2 linked regions of the Homo sapiens genome follow. The main gene of each other region encodes a partner of the protein of the gene in region 2 in a complex. Each region holds a gene or a part of one and is shown on either strand. Other genes may lie near its edges.

Region 1 (7,940 bases), on a different chromosome or scaffold from region 2:
TAATAGAGTCATTGAATATCACAAGTCCAACGGGTTTTTGAGGTTTCTGGTCAAACCTCTAGATTCCCTGACACATGCCTTAATCACATCTAGTGATGGGGACACATTACCAGAACCAGTTCCATTGTTGGGCAACTTTATTCAGTAAAAAAATCACTCTTTCGGCTGGGCGCAGTGGCTCACACCTGTAATCCCAGCACTTTGGGAGGCCAAGGTGGGCGGATCACCTGAGGTCAGGAGTTCGAGACCAGCCTGGCCAACATGGTGAAACCCCATCTCTACTAAAAATACAAAAATTAGCTGGGTGTGGTGGCACACACCTGTAATCCCAGCTACTTGGGAGGCTGAGGCAAGAGAATAGCTTGAACCTGGGAGATGGAGGTTGCAGTGAGCTGAGATCACACCACTGCACTCCAGACTCCAGCCTGGGCAACAGAGCAAGACTCTGTCAAATAAATAAATAAATAAACTTATTCTTTCCCAGAAACCCAAAACCCCTACCTTAGGACTTCTACCTAGGGTCTCATTTCTCACCTGGAGTCCCAGAATAGAAAAAGGGTCAGCAAACTACAGTCCACAAGTCAAACCTGAAGACTGAAGACTGTTTTTTTTTTGTGTGTGTGTGTTTGCTTGTTTTGTTTTGTTTTGTTTTGAGATGGAGTCTCACTTTGTCACCCAGGCTGGAGTGCAGTGGCGCCATCTCAACTCACTGCAACCTCCACCTCCCAGATTCAAGCGATTCTCATGCCTCAGCCTCCTGAGTAGCTAGGATTACAGGCACCTGCCTCCATACCTAGCTAATTTTTTGTATTTTTAGTAGAGACGGAGTTTCATCATGTTGGCCAGGCTGGTCTTGAACTCTTGACCTCAAGTGATCCGCCTGCCTCGGCCTCCCAAAGTGCTGGGATTACATGAATGAGCCACCGCATCTGGCTTGTTTTTTGTGGCCTATGAGTTAAGAATGGTTTTTGCATTTTTCAGTGGTTCAAAATAAATCAAGAGACCAGTTGCAAGGGCTCACGCTTATAATCCCAGCACTTTGAGACGCCGAGGCAGGCAGATCACTTGAGCCCAGGAGTTCAATACTAGCATGGGCAACGTGACAAAACCCCATCTCTACAAAAAATACAAAAATTAGCCAGGCATGGCCGGGCGTGGTGGCTCACACCTGTAATCCCAGCACTTTGGGAGGCCGAGGCGGGTGGATCACGAGGTCAGGAGATCGAGACTATCCTGCCTAACATGGTGAAACCCCGTCTCTACTAAAAATACAAAAAATTAGCTGGGCGTGGTGGCGGGCGCCTGTAGTCCCAGCTACTCGGGAGGCTGAGGCAGGAGAATGGCGTGAACCCAGGAGGAGAAGCTTGCAGTGAGCCGAGATCGTGCCACTGCACTCCAGCCTGGGCAACAGAGCATGACTCCGTCTCAAAAAAAAAAAAAAAATTAGCCAGGCATAGTGGCCTGTGCCTGTAGTCCCAGCTACTCGGGAGGCTTAGGTGAGAAGACTGCTTGAACTCAGGAGGCAGAGGTTTCAGTGAGCCGAGATCTCACCACTGCCCTCCAGCCTGGGTGACAGAGTGAGACCCTGTCTCTAAATAAATAGAATACTACAGTTGTCCCTTGGTATCCAAGGGGATTGGGTCCAGGATCCCTTGCAGATACCAAAATTTGTAGATGTTCAAGTCCCTGATATAAAATGGCATAGTATTTGCATATAACCTAGGCATGTCGTCCCATATACCTTTTTTTTTTTTTTTTGAGGCAGAGTCTCACTCTTTCACCCAGGCTGGAGTGCAGTGGCACGATCATGGCTCACCACAACCTCTGCCTCCCAGGTTCGTGCGACTCCTCGTAACTCAGCCTCCTGAGTAGCTGGGATTACAGGTACGTGCTATCATGCCCAGCTAATTTTTACTAGAGACGGGGCTTTGCCATGTCTTGAACTCCTGACCTCAAGTGATCCGCCCACCTTGGCCTCCCAAAGTGCAGCGATTACAGGCGTGAGCCACCACACCTGGCCACTTTTTTTTTTTTTGAGACTGAGTCTCGCTGTGTCGCCCAGGCTGGAGTGCAGTGGCACGATCTCCGCTCACTGCAAGCTCCGCCTCCTGGGTTCACGCCATTCTCCTGCCTCAGCCTCTGGAGTAGCTGGGACTACAGGCGCCCACCACCACGCCCGGCTAATTTCTTTGTATTTTTAGTAGAGACAGGGTATCACCGTATTAGCCAGGATGGTCTCGATTTCCTGACCTCGTGATCCGCCCACCTCAGCCTCTTTATTTTTTTTGGAGACAGAGTCTCACTCTGTCACCCAGGCTGGAGTGCACTGGCACAGTCTCGGCTCACTGCAGCCTCTGAACTCCTGGGCTCAAGTGATTCTCCCACCTCAACCTCCCGAGTAGCTGGAACTACAGGCATATGCCACCCCACCTGGCTAATTTTTTTTTTTTTTTGAGACAGTTTCACTCTTATTGTCCAGGCTAGAGTGCAATGGCACAACCTAAGCTCACCGCAACCTCCGACTCCCGGGTTCAAGCAATTCTCCTGCCTCAGCCTCCTGAGAACCTGGGATTATAGGCATGTGCCACCACACCTGTCTAATTTTGTATTTTTAGTAGAGACGGGGTTTCTCCATGTTGGCCAGGCTGGTCTCGAACTCCCGACCTCAGGTGATCTGCTCGCCTCAGCCTCCCAAAGTGCTGGGATTACAGGTGTGAGCCACTGCACCCGGCCTTTTGTATTCTCTTGTAGAAGTAGGGTTTCCCCATGTTGCCCAGGCTGATGTTAAACTCCTAGGCTCAAGTAATCCACCGCCTCAGCTTCCCAAAGTGCTGGGATTACAAGCATGAGCCACCAGGCCTGGCCTTCCCATATATTTTAAATCATCTCTAGATTACCTTTTTTTTTTTGAGACGGAGTCTCGCTCTGTTGCCAGGCTGGCGTGCAGTGGCACAATTTCGGCTCACTGCAACCTCCGCCTCCCGGGTTCAAGTGATTCTCCTGCCTCAGCCTCCTGAGCAACTGGGACTACAGGCGCCTGCCACCACTCCCGGCTAATTTTTGTATTTTTAGTAGAGACGGGGTTTCACCATGTTGGCCAGGATGGTCTCGATCTCTTGACCTCATGATCCACCCTCCTCGGCCTCTCAAAATGCTGGGATTACAGGCGTGAGCCACCACGCCTAGCTAGATTACTTATAATGCCTAATATAATGCCTATGCATCACCTTGAGTGGATTCAACACAGTACTAGGTGCACAGCAAATTCAAGTTTTGCTTTTTGGAACTTTGTGTTTTTCTTCCCAAATACTGCCAATCTGAAGCTGGATCATGGGATGTGGAACTCATGGACTCAGAGGCAACTGTACTTAGTGACACGTGAAAATTACCTGAAGTTCAAATATGAATATTCATAAAGTTCTATTGGAATACAGCTAGGCTCATTCCTTTAGATACTGTCTATAGCTGTTTGGCACTACATTGGCAGAGTTGAGCAGTTCCAACGGAAATCACATGGCCTGAAAACTAAAACATTCAGTATCTGGCCCTTTCCAAGGAAATCTGCCAATTCCTGGTCTAATACCTCACTCCTCTGTGGACCTTCAAGGGCCTGGCACAGGAATCTGAGCACTGGGACACTGACTCGGCTCAGGGATTTCCTGGGAAGTGACACACAGGATCCTGCTTAAATCTGCCTTACCCAGTGGATGGTTGATGAAAGAGGGTACGCTGGTGGCTGTGAGGGTCAGCTCCTTCTCTTCGCTGCCTTCCATGGGGCCCAGCAAGAAGCGAACACGCTGTTTAGGAGCGGGAGGCTTCCTGGCATTGAGACCTGAACACACAGAGATAATATATACACACATACATACAAATATATGTACATATAAAATATTTTTTAAGAGACAGGGCCTCGTTCTGTAGCCCAGGCTGAAGTGCAATGGCGCCATCATAGCTCACTGTAACGTCAAACTCTTGGGCTCAAGCGATCCTCCTGCCTCAGCCTCCAGAGTAGCTGGGATTACAGGCGTGCACCACGATGCTGACCAGGAATATCTTGTTCTGTCCAAACACTTGGGGGATTAGACAACAGGGAAGTATGATGTAGAAGACAAAGCAGAAGCCCATGGTGCAGAGGGCAGTATAGCAGTAGTTAAGAAACAGGCGGATTCAAACAGACTCTACAACGTAGTAACCGTGTGACAAGGAACAATACTGAGTCAGTTTCCCCCTCGGAAAACAGAGGAAAGTGAGGAGTAAGAAAGCACAGAGAACAGGCGTTTGGGAAAGCGCTCTGCCCAGGTGAATAGGTCACGTGATTTTGTTTTGGGGTAAGGACCAGAAGCGGAGATGGACTTCCAAGAGAACGAGAGCGGGAACGTGGGTCTGGTTCGAGGCACTCACCCTTCAGAAGTTGTAGCTCCACTGTATCCCGCAGGTGCTTCCATTTTAGCCCCGGGGGCTTATAGACCGCGAAAAGCCCATGCAGCCGCGACAAGCCAGCAGACCCCATACTTGAAGATCACAGCACCCGCTGGACCTGGACGGAAGTACCGCCAGGCCCCGCCCCCAAATGTGGTCCTTTCCACGGGCGCCGCCATGTTCCACAGCCGGAAGAGGTTCGCATTTTATAGTCTTCGGGGAAAACCGGCTGTGGAGAAGGAAATAGGGCCCGGCGCTGAGTGAGCGTGGTTGCGTGTCCTTTGCAGACACTTTCTGGGGCGAGGTGACATGGCGAGAGTCTTGGATCGGTGGACGTAGACGGTAGACAGTTCGCGTGCGTTTCCTTCGCCTACTTGGCCTACATGCCTTCTGCCCGTGAAGCGATGTTTCCCCTCGAAAGGCCGTAGGCTACGCCGTCAGAATCGGTTTTTCAGTGAGTTTTGACCCCTCCGACGCTCCGTCGCCTGACAGAATCGCGGCGTTCTTCGTACCCGCCCATCCTCCGCGGACGCCCGCTGCCATGGCGACTCTGCTGCGCCCTGTCCTCCGTCGGCTCTGCGGGCTCCCGGGCCTACAGCGGCCTGCGGCAGGCAAGTGGCGCCGGGTTCTGGGCGCAGGCGGGAAGGAGCCTGAGGGCGCCCGGCTCCTCTGACCTCGGCCTTTTTCTTGCCCCGCAGAAATGCCCCTCCGGGCTAGGAGCGACGGCGCCGGCCCGCTATACTCGCACCACCTCCCCACCTCCCCGCTGCAGAAAGGGCTGTTGGCCGCCGGCTCCGCGGCGATGGCGCTCTATAACCCCTACCGCCACGGTAAGGCCGCCCGCGCCTCGCCCCCGTGGGGGCGGCTTGGAGCCGTTTCCTGTGGGTAACTGGAACATAGCCTAGGTCGGGGTACCCAAACCTGGTTGCAGCTCGTAACCACTCGGAACGTTTATGAAAATGCAGATTCCTGGATCCCACCTAAACGCACTGAATCTGAATCTGAATCTGCAGTGGAGGGAGAAATGGGCGTGAAACCGAAAGTCTGTCTTTAAACTACTTGGGAGAATCTGTCATGCAGCCATATTGAGAACATCTAGACTAAATAGATGATTCATAAGTACCGATCAGTTTATAATATCCTACTAGAAAGTCAACTCCGAGGTCGAGGACCATGTCTGCCTCGTTCCACTGCATCTGCAGCCTTCTGGATAGTGCCTGGCACATAGTAAATGCTCAATAAATGTTTGCTGGATGTGTGACTAGAACATTCTAGGGTTCTACAGTGTTTTTCTTATGCCTCCTAGATTTTTGAGTTCTGGGAAGTACTGTTATTCCTACTAACAAAAACAGGCTAGGCGCTATTATAGTGGCTCACGCCTATAATCCCTATCGGGGGGCCGAAGCGGGCAGATGGCTTGAGCTGAGGAGTTTGAAACCAGCCTGGGCAACACGGTGAATCCCCATCTCTACAAAAAAAAATACAAGAATTAATTGGGGCTGGTTGCATGCGGCTGTATTCCCAGGCTGAGGTGGAAGGACCATTTGAGCCGGGGAGTTCGAGACTGCAGTAAGTTGTGATTGCGCCATTGCACTCCAGCCTGGGCGACAGAGCGAGACCCTGTCTTAAACAAAAAATACACTATATCTCCATGTCCCCAGTGGTTTTTTGTTTGTTTTGTTTTGAGACACAGTATTGCTCTGTGGCCCACGCTGGAGTGCAGTGGCGCAATCTCAGCTCTATGCAACTTCCACCTCCCAGGTTCAAGCGATTCTCGTGCCTCAGCCTCCTGAGTAGCTGGGATTACAGGCCTGTGCGGCCTGGCTAATTGTTGTATTTTTAGTAGAGACGGGATTTTGCTATGTTGCCCAGGCTGGTCTCAAACTCCTGACTTCAGGTGATCCTCCCACCTCGGCCTCCCAAAGTGTTGGGATTACAGGCATGAGCCACCACGCCCGGCCAAGACCAGCGAATTTTTTAATTTTTTTGTAGAGACGGCGTCTTGCCACGTTGCCCAGGCTGCTCTGGAACTCTTGGCCTCAAGTGATCCTCCTGCCTCAGCCCCCCAGTGTTGAGATTACAGGTGTCAGCCGCTACACTTGGCCACTAAGTGTTATATATATATGATTTTCATGGTTTCTCACATTAACCAGCTAAGAAAGGTGTTGTCTGCACTTCACAAATTAAGACACTGAGGCTGAAAAATGTGAAGCAGGCCAGGCATGGTGGCTCACACCTGTAATCCCAGCAATTTGGGAATCCAAGGTGGGAGGATCACTTGGGGCCAAAGTTCAAGACCAGCCTGGGCAACATAGCAAGACCTCATCTCTACAGAAAATTTAAAAAACTAGCTGCATGCCTGTAGTCCTAGCAGTGAGCTATGATCACACCACTTCACTCCAGCCTGGGCAACAGAGCAAGACCCTGTCTCAAAAAAACAAAACAAAACAGAAATGTGAAGCAATTTGTACTAGGTCACCTAGATAGTGAACACACCTGGACTGTAGCCCAGCATCTCTGATGCCTAAGCCTCTACCAATCAATGGAGACATGATATTGTATTGTGAAAAGTGATTTATAAAATCTTTACAACGTTGTGCTAACTAGAGCTGTCCCGCCCCAGTAGATTAAGAATAAGAACTATAGATATGTATACTGATCCCTTGTTGTGTGCTGGGTAATTTGCTAAGTGTTTAGCCTGAATCCTTATAACAAAGAGCTAGACATCATCCCTAATTTATCCTGTAGGAAACAAAGGCTCAGACCAGGTCAGCTAACTTACCTAAGATGACATCCCCCATTTGTGCCCGTTTCTGTCCTTTCAGACATGGTCGCAGTTCTAGGGGAGACCACAGGACACCGCACCCTGAAGGTCCTCAGGGACCAGATGAGGAGGGATCCAGAGGGTGCCCAGATCCTGCAGTAGGTCCCAGCTCTGCCTGGGGGTCTGGGGGCATTCTCTAGGTATTCTGACCTCTCTAGAATCACATTGTGTTTGTTCTGTTCCGCTAGGGAGCTTTTGATACCCTGGCTACATATGGTTGCACAGGCTGGGCACTGCCCAATTCCAGGGGTGTCATTCACATACATGTGTATACACTGATGACTTCCGAGTTGTGCAGTGTGATAGCCTTGGCCCAGTTTCAACCACAGGGCTCTGTGCCTTCATTAAGTTCCCATAACATGTGCTGGCTTTACCCCTCCCTTGCAGTACCTTTTGCAAGTACTCTGGTCACATTCGAGGACTGTCTTCCTGCCGAGATTGTACCCCTGCCCATGTCCTTGGTTTGGGGTAGTATCCTAAGTCCCTGACACTAGCCTGGCCAGTTGTAGGTGCTCCATTAAGGCTTGTGGTGGCCACATTGCTCCTCTGTACATTCTCCCGCCCCTCAGCTCGCTGTAGTTGGATCGTTCACCTACCTTTGCCCACACCCTCCCAATGCCCAAGTCTTGCCTTTCAGGGAGCGTCCCCGGATTTCGACATCCACCCTCGACCTGGGCAAGCTCCAGAGCCTGCCGGA
Region 2 (7,229 bases):
ATTAGCCAGGCATGGTGGCGTGTGCCTGTAATCCCAGCTACTTGGGAGGCTGAGGCATGAGAATCACTTGAACCTGGGAGGTGAAGGCTGCAGTGTGCGAGACCGTGCCACTGTACTCCAGCCTAGGTGACAGAGGGAGACCCTATCTCAAAAAAAAAGATAGGTGAAAAGAAAAAAAAAGTTGTAATTGTAAACATTTCTGCCCAGTGCCTTTATATTTATATAACATTTTCACTGTGACCAGACTTGATGATATTCAAGTTTTCTATTTGTGTGTGTGTGTGTGTGTGTGTGTGATGAACACAACGAAAACGTACTGCGTTTTTTTTCCTATTATAAAAGTGATACTGAAATATGCTAATTAATATATTAATTTTAGTTAAATGCTGCTAATATGCATACCTCTTACTTGAAGGTTTTTAATATGTTTTGATAACTTTAATAACTTCAGGTGATGTCTGTATAACTTTTAAAGTGCAGCTCTCTCTAACAAATGTGCCTTACAACTCCTGATTAAACGGCGTCTTGAAGGTTTTAAAATGTGATCGTGTATACTGGAATTCAAAGAGGCTTCTTGTCAGCAGTCAAGTGATGATGGAAAACTGTAATAGTTTGTAAAGTTCCTCTTTGCTTTTTCCTAAAATGAGAGAAAAGAAAGAAGTGTTTAATGTAGTCCTCAGATGAGTGCTTTTAAAGCTCCTTGGCTCTGTTGAAGCCAAGGAGGGTGTATGTGTGTAACTGCCCAACTGGTTCATTTTGCCCGCTGCCTGGATACAGCCCATTCATCAAGACAGAGGAATTGCAGCAGAGGAATTGCAACAGAGAAAGCGTTTGATACATGCAGAGCTGGCTAAACAGGAGACCAGAATATTATTATTACTCAAATCAGTCTCCCTGAAATTTTGGAAACTGGGTTTTCCTGTGTATGTATTTTCTCTCTCTCTCTCTGTGTGTGTGTGTGTGTGTGTGTGTTTGAGACGAAGTCTTGCTCTTGTTGCCTAGGCTGGAGTGCAGTGGGGTGATACTGGCTCACTGCAACCTACACCTCCCAGGTTCAAGCGATTTTCCTGCCTCGGGCTCCCGAGTAGCTGGGATTACAGGTATGCGCCACTACACCCAGCTAATTTTGTATTTTTAGTAGAGACGGGGTTTCTCCATGTTGGTCAGGCTGGTCTCAAACTCCCGACCTCAGGTGGTCTGCCTGCCTCGGCCTCCCAAAGTGCTGGGATTACAGGCGTGAGCCACCGTGCCCGGCCGTGTTTTTTTTTTTTTTTTTTTTTTAATATGTAGTCTCTATTGCCCAGGCTGGAGTGCAGTAGTGCGATCTCGGCTCACTGCAAGCTCTGCCTCCCGGGTTCACCATTCTCCTGCCTCAGCCTCCCGAGTAGCTGGGACTACAGGCGCCCACCACCACACCCGGCTAATTTTTTGTATTTTTAATAGAGACAGGGTTTCATCAGGATGGTCTTGATCTCCTGACCTCATGATCTGCCCGCCTCGGCCTCCCAAAGTGCTGGGATTACAGGCGTGAGCCACTGTGCCTGGCTGTGTTTTTTTTTTTTTTTTTTTTTGAGATGTAGTCTCACTCTATTGCCCAGGCTGGAGTGCAGTAGTGCGATCTCGGCTCACTGCAACCTGGGTTCAAGTGATTCTCCTGCCTCAGCCTCCCAAGTAGCTGGGACTACAGGTGTGTGCCACCATGCCCAGCTAATTTTTGTACTTTTAGTAGAGATGGGGTTTTGCCCTGTTGGTCAGGCTGGTCTTGAACTGCTGACCTCAAGTGATCCTTCCACTTCGGCCTCCCAAAGTCTGGGATTACAGGGGTGAGCCTCCGTGCCTGGCTGGAACTAGTTTTTTTAATGGATAATTTGGTGGGTAGGGGGATGGAATTAGGGAATAGTATGCATTTTTGTTTTTTAAATTTTGTTTTGCCATTATAAAAATACTTGTTTTTTATAGCAAATACAGAGAACATCAAAAGCAACAGAGAAAAAAACTTAAAAAGCAGCACTTATGGGCACGCACTGTTAATCCTGGCAAAATTCTTTTTAAGATAGAAAGTACAGAGGGAGGGAAAAAGAAGGAAAAAGAAGGAAAGAACTTTGGTATTCTAATTTCTTTTTCACTTAATATGTGTTTTCCTGAAGAATCTAGTGTTTTCTCCTGTTATTAAAAGCTCTTTACAAACATTTCAATGGGCTACATAACATCATACAGTTGGATTTTTTTTTTTTTTTTTGAGCCAGAGTCTAGGTCTATCACCCACTCTGGAGTGCAGTGGTGTGATCATGGCTCAGTGCAGCCTCAACCTCCTGGGCTCAAGTGATCCTTTTAGCCTCACAAGTAGGTGGGATCAGAGGCACACACCACCATGCCTGACTAATTTTTAAAATTTTTTGTAGAGATGGAATCTCACTGTGTTGCCCAGGCTGGTCTTGAACTCCTGGGCTCAAGTGATCCTCTCGCCTCAGTCTCCCAAAGTGTTGGGATTACAGGCGTGAGCCACTGCACTCGGACATGATGTTTTGATATTCAATTGTTGCTTAACATTTTGTTTCCAAATTTTCCCAGTAATAAATAATGGGCACATCTATAAATCTTTGTCAACATTTTTTCTCCTTAGAAACAGAGACCTAGGCCAGGCGTGGCGGCTCACGCCTATAATCCCAGCACTTTGGGAGGACAAGGTGGGAGGATCACTTGAGGTCAGGAATTTGAGACCAGCCTGGCCAACACAGCGAAACCCAGTCTCAGCTGGGCGTGGTGGTGTGTGTACCTGTAATCCCATCTACTTGGGAGGCTGAGGCAGGAGAATCGCTTGAACCCGGGAGGCAGAGGTTCCAGTGAGCCAAGGTCTCCCCACTGCAATCCAGCCTGTGCGACAGAGTGAAACTCCATTTAAAAAGAACAAAAACAAAAAACAAAACAAAAAGGAAACAGAGACCTAGAAGTGGTATTACAGCAAAGGTTTTGAACATTTTAAGGCTTTTGAGCGCCAGATTCAGACACTCAGTAGTTTTACATGAGAGTGCTACAACATCCTCACTAAGTAGTATTTGGGTTCATCATAATTTTAAATTATTTTGGTGTGTCAATTTGAACACTAGAGTGATATAAAAACTAAAAACTTGAATTCAATAATTTTACAATTGTATTCCATCTTAAAATATTTTATGGTAAACTTGGATAAAGTATATAAATAATCCAAGGGTGTAAAGTAGAAAGTGAAAGCTCCCTTCTCCCAGTTCCAGCCCCCTGATGTTGCCAATATTAAACGTTGTATATCCTTGCAGACACGCATCTTTGATTTTTGCCCTCATGTACATTACTCATTTAAAAATTATTTCGTTGAGTAGATTCCTAAAAGTAAGACTGCTGTATTATATGATCTTTTTAAAGTATGTTGCTAAATTTCCCCTCCCTTCTCAAAAAATTCCAATTTGCACAAATATACATGCATACATGCACACAGTACATTAAGGTGGATACCAAGGATAAAACATGTTCTCTGTTTCTGAAAATAGAGAAAAGACCGGGAAGAAGTTTAAAGTTGGCTTTCAGCCCACCAATAGAGATAACACTATATAACACCATTAACCATGTGGTGCATGTAATTTAGATATACATATAATTTTATTTATTTATTTATTTTTCAGACAGGGCCCAGGCTAGAGTGCAGTGGCAGAATCACGGCTGACTGCAGCCTCGAGCTACCGGGCTCAAGCTATCCCCCCACCTCAGCCTCCCGAGTAGCTGGGACTACAGGTGTGCTCCACCAGACCCGGCTAATTTTTAAAATTATTTGTAGAGGCGGGGTCTCGCTATGTTGCCCAGGCTTACTATTTTAAAGTAGATGTAGGATACAAATAAAAAAAAAAATCTCCTTCCACGTAGGTAAAGCAGGAAATACCGTGCCTTGTTAATAAGTAATTCCCTCATGATCCTTTTCCCCAGGAACTTGGGTGAGAAATCATAACCTTGTCCTGATCTTTCTAAACAGCAATTTAGCATTTTCATCTCCCTGGCAACCCAAGGCGCCTTGGCCTTGGTCTTCCGAGTGATTGACAGTGACCCCACCCAATAAAATCTTTTTATTTGTCGTATCTAACCAATCTAACCCCTAGCGCAGAGCTAGGGGGCGTTCCCACCGGTGCGCGGGCGAGCTGAGCCTTCCTTACGTCTGCTGTGCGTCATCAGTCCGAGCCAAGGGCACTATTGGCCAGTTCCGTTCAACGAAGTGGTTGCTTTTTTTAGTTCCGGCAATGAGTTGCGCCGGGGCGGCGGCGGCTCCCCGCCTTTGGCGGCTGCGCCCGGGGGCCCGGCGGTCCCTCTCAGGTAAAAGGAGGCGCGCAGTCACAGTCCTGCGCCGGTCTAGCGAGCTAGGGAATTTTCGCTTGAGGTTTGGGTCGAAGAGGTCACGGGGGAGAGGTTCGTAACGTCACAGGCCTGCGACGGAGCGCGACTGCGTGACTTCGGCCTCCGGGGCGCTGGCGGGCGGGGCGGGGTCTGTAGTTAGCGGCGAGAGTGACAGGAGGACAGGGGTTGTTTCGGCAGTGACGCCTGGGGAGTGACGCAATTGCACCCCTGTGCAGTGATGTCACGGCAGGTGCGGCCAGCGTTCCGAGTCGAGGACAGTTGGCGACACTGAAAATTCAGCGTCTCCGGGAGTCTCTCTCTTTGTAGTCTTTGCCCAGGGCCTTGCCAGGCAAAGGGTAGCCCGACGACCAGCAGCCTCCGCTACTTCTGGGCGCTCGCTAGAAATACAGATTCTCGGGCCCCACCCCGACCTACTTGGTCGGTATCTGTGATCTGTGAACAGGACCTTTAGGTGATTTGCATGCACTGTAAACTGTGAAAGCCATCAGTGTAGTGGAAGGAGCATCGAATTTAGAGTAGAGAGACATGGTTTTGGACCCTGGTTCCTGCTTTCCTTGTTTCATCTGTGCTGCCTTAGAAAATTGTCATGAGCCCGGGCGCGGTGGCTCCGGCCTATAATCTCAGCACTTTGGGAGGCCGAGGCTGGAGGATCCCCTGAGGTCAGGAGTTTGAGACCAGCCTGGCCAACATGGTGAAACCCCGCCTCTACTAAAAATACAAAAATTTGCCAGGCGTGATGGCAGGTGCCTGTAATCCCAGCTACTCAGGAGGCTGAGACAGGAGAATCGCTTGAACCCGGGAGGCAGAGATTGCTTTGAGGCGAGATTGCACCACTGCACTGCAACCTGGGCGTCAGAGCGAGACTTTGTCTCCCCCGCGCAAAAAAAAAAAAAAAAAAGAAATTTCATGAAGTCGTTTTCTCAACGTTAAATTACCGTGTACCACTTTCGGGATTTTTGCCTAATGGCAGTACTGCTTGAACTTTTGATTACTAGATGTGTTTTTTTGTATAGCTATGTCCCATTTAAAAATTAAATTAATTTCCTTGAAACAAAATCCTTATGGTGAATGGGAAGCCAGTGCCACTTGCCACAAATGGGTGAGTAATCATTAAAAAAAAACAAACAAATTAAAAAGTTATGAAATTGTATTAAATACTGTCTTTCTGTTACAAAGGGGAAATTAGCAAGTGTTGGGAAAGTGTTAAGGCTATACCAGCTGTAAATGGAGTTATCTTCCTTAATGAAAGAGATTGCAAGAGATTTTGAAAGAGTACCCCTTACTACATGGGGTTATTTGCTGCATATCCATAAGCCACTTAATATTTTGTAGGTACCACACTGGCATGTTTCACACTTTGGGAAAATATGGACATAAAGTGATGCATTTGAGAGCTAGCACCGAGCCTCAATTTTACTTTAAAGTATATGGTAATGCAGGCAAAACTCCGAGGGTTGTTGAATGTGAATTTTAATGCTGCTCTGTTCAGCCAGTGAGCATAACAGAATAAGACTCATTTCTGTTTATAAAGTTACTTTGCTTCTTATATCTTATTTTATCCTCATAACTCAGTAAGAAAAGTTTATTATTGTATGTTTTCCCTTAAAAAGGAAAGAGCCTGATTATTGCCTTTTTTTTTTTTTTTTTTTGAGGCAGAGTCTTGCTTTGTCGCCCAGGCTGGAGTGCAGTGGCGCGATCTCAGCTCACTGCAACCTCCGCCTCCTGGGTTCAAGTGATTCTCCTGCCTCAGACTCCCGAGTAGCTGAGGCTGCATGCATGCACCACCACGCCTGGCTAATTTTTGAATTTTTGGTAGAGACGGGGTTTCGCCATGATGACCAGGCTGGTCTCGAACTCCTGACCTCAAGTGATTCTCCCTCCTTGGCTTCCCAAAGTGCTGGGATTACAGGCGTGAGTCGCCGCACCCAGCCAATTTTATATGTAAGAAATGTCGATCCTGATTTTCCCAAGGCTAGTGTTAGAGATGGGACACATGTTTTATGCTTCTTTTTTTCTTTTTTTGAGACAGAGTCTCACTCTGTCACCGAGGCTGGAGTGTAATGGTATGATCTTAGCTCACTGCAGCCTTTGCCTACTGGGTTCAAGTGATTGTTCTGCCTCAGCCTCCTGAGTAGCTGGGACTACAGGCACGTGCCACGATGCCTGGCTAATTTTTATATTTTTGGTAGAGATGGGTTTTCACCATTTTGGCCAGGCTGGTCTTGAACTCCTGGTCTCAAGCAGTCCACCTGCCTCAGCTTCCCAAAGTGCTGGGATTACAGGCATGAGCCACCACACCCGGCCTATGCAGTCTCTTTAGTCAGATATGCTCAGTGAGATGGAGAGGATCATGGCGAGGAGTAGACCAAAGCTGGGTCACTATGCTTCAGAACTTAGGTCCACGCTTCTTTGTTAAAAGTGTGACATTTACAACCCCATCTGGTAGAAGATTTCAAGTTCAGAGCCACCCCAAATTTCACCAACCCACCTCACTACCTTGTGTCCAAAGCACTCAAGCCTTTGTCATGAAAGAACCACATATGTATCTAAAATGAATTTTTTCCACATATTCGCTGGCTGTTGAAGTTAGCCTAAGTGAAAAGAAGTTTGCATAAAAGACATGGTAGTCACGGCTAAGAGCCCTAAAACATTACAAAGTGATACCAATGCTGGCTGGGCATGGTGGCTCACGCCTGTAATCCCAGCACTTTGGGAAGCCAAGGTGGGAGGATTGCTTGAGCTCAGGAGTTCGAGACCAGCCTGGGCAACATGGTGAAACCCCGTCTCTACTAAAAATATAAAAATGTAGCTGGGCATGGTGGCACCTGCCTGTAGTCCTAGCTACTCTGGAG

Evidence for each region. The genes of interacting proteins can lie anywhere in the genome.
Region 1: COQ7 (region 2) and COQ4 share a complex: the UniProt entries of both Homo sapiens proteins name them as parts of the multi-subunit COQ enzyme complex.

What each region holds. Positions count from the first base shown.
Region 1 is NC_000009.12:128,317,899-128,325,838, forward strand, and holds the start of COQ4 (ubiquinone biosynthesis protein COQ4 homolog, mitochondrial isoform 1 precursor), read left to right. Parts: upstream 1-4,940; 5' UTR 4,941-4,960; coding exon 4,961-5,030; intron 5,031-5,117; coding exon 5,118-5,249; intron 5,250-7,244; coding exon 7,245-7,341; intron 7,342-7,880; coding exon 7,881-7,940. Other genes in the region: TRUB2 (pseudouridylate synthase TRUB2, mitochondrial), read right to left, coding at 3,701-3,832, 4,402-4,510. UniProt on the Homo sapiens protein: Lyase that catalyzes the C1-decarboxylation of 4-hydroxy-3-methoxy-5-(all-trans-decaprenyl)benzoic acid into 2-methoxy-6-(all-trans-decaprenyl)phenol during ubiquinone biosynthesis.
Region 2 is NC_000016.10:19,063,403-19,070,631, forward strand, and holds the start of COQ7 (NADPH-dependent 3-demethoxyubiquinone 3-hydroxylase, mitochondrial), read left to right. Parts: upstream 1-4,211; 5' UTR 4,212-4,262; coding exon 4,263-4,335; exon of another isoform or gene 4,336-4,428; intron 4,429-4,504; exon of another isoform or gene 4,505-4,606; intron 4,607-4,614; exon of another isoform or gene 4,615-4,828; intron 4,829-5,244; exon of another isoform or gene 5,245-5,445; coding exon of another isoform or gene 5,446-5,476; intron 5,477-7,229. UniProt on the Homo sapiens protein: Catalyzes the hydroxylation of the 5-methoxy-2-methyl-3-(all-trans-polyprenyl)benzoquinone at the C6 position and participates in the biosynthesis of ubiquinone.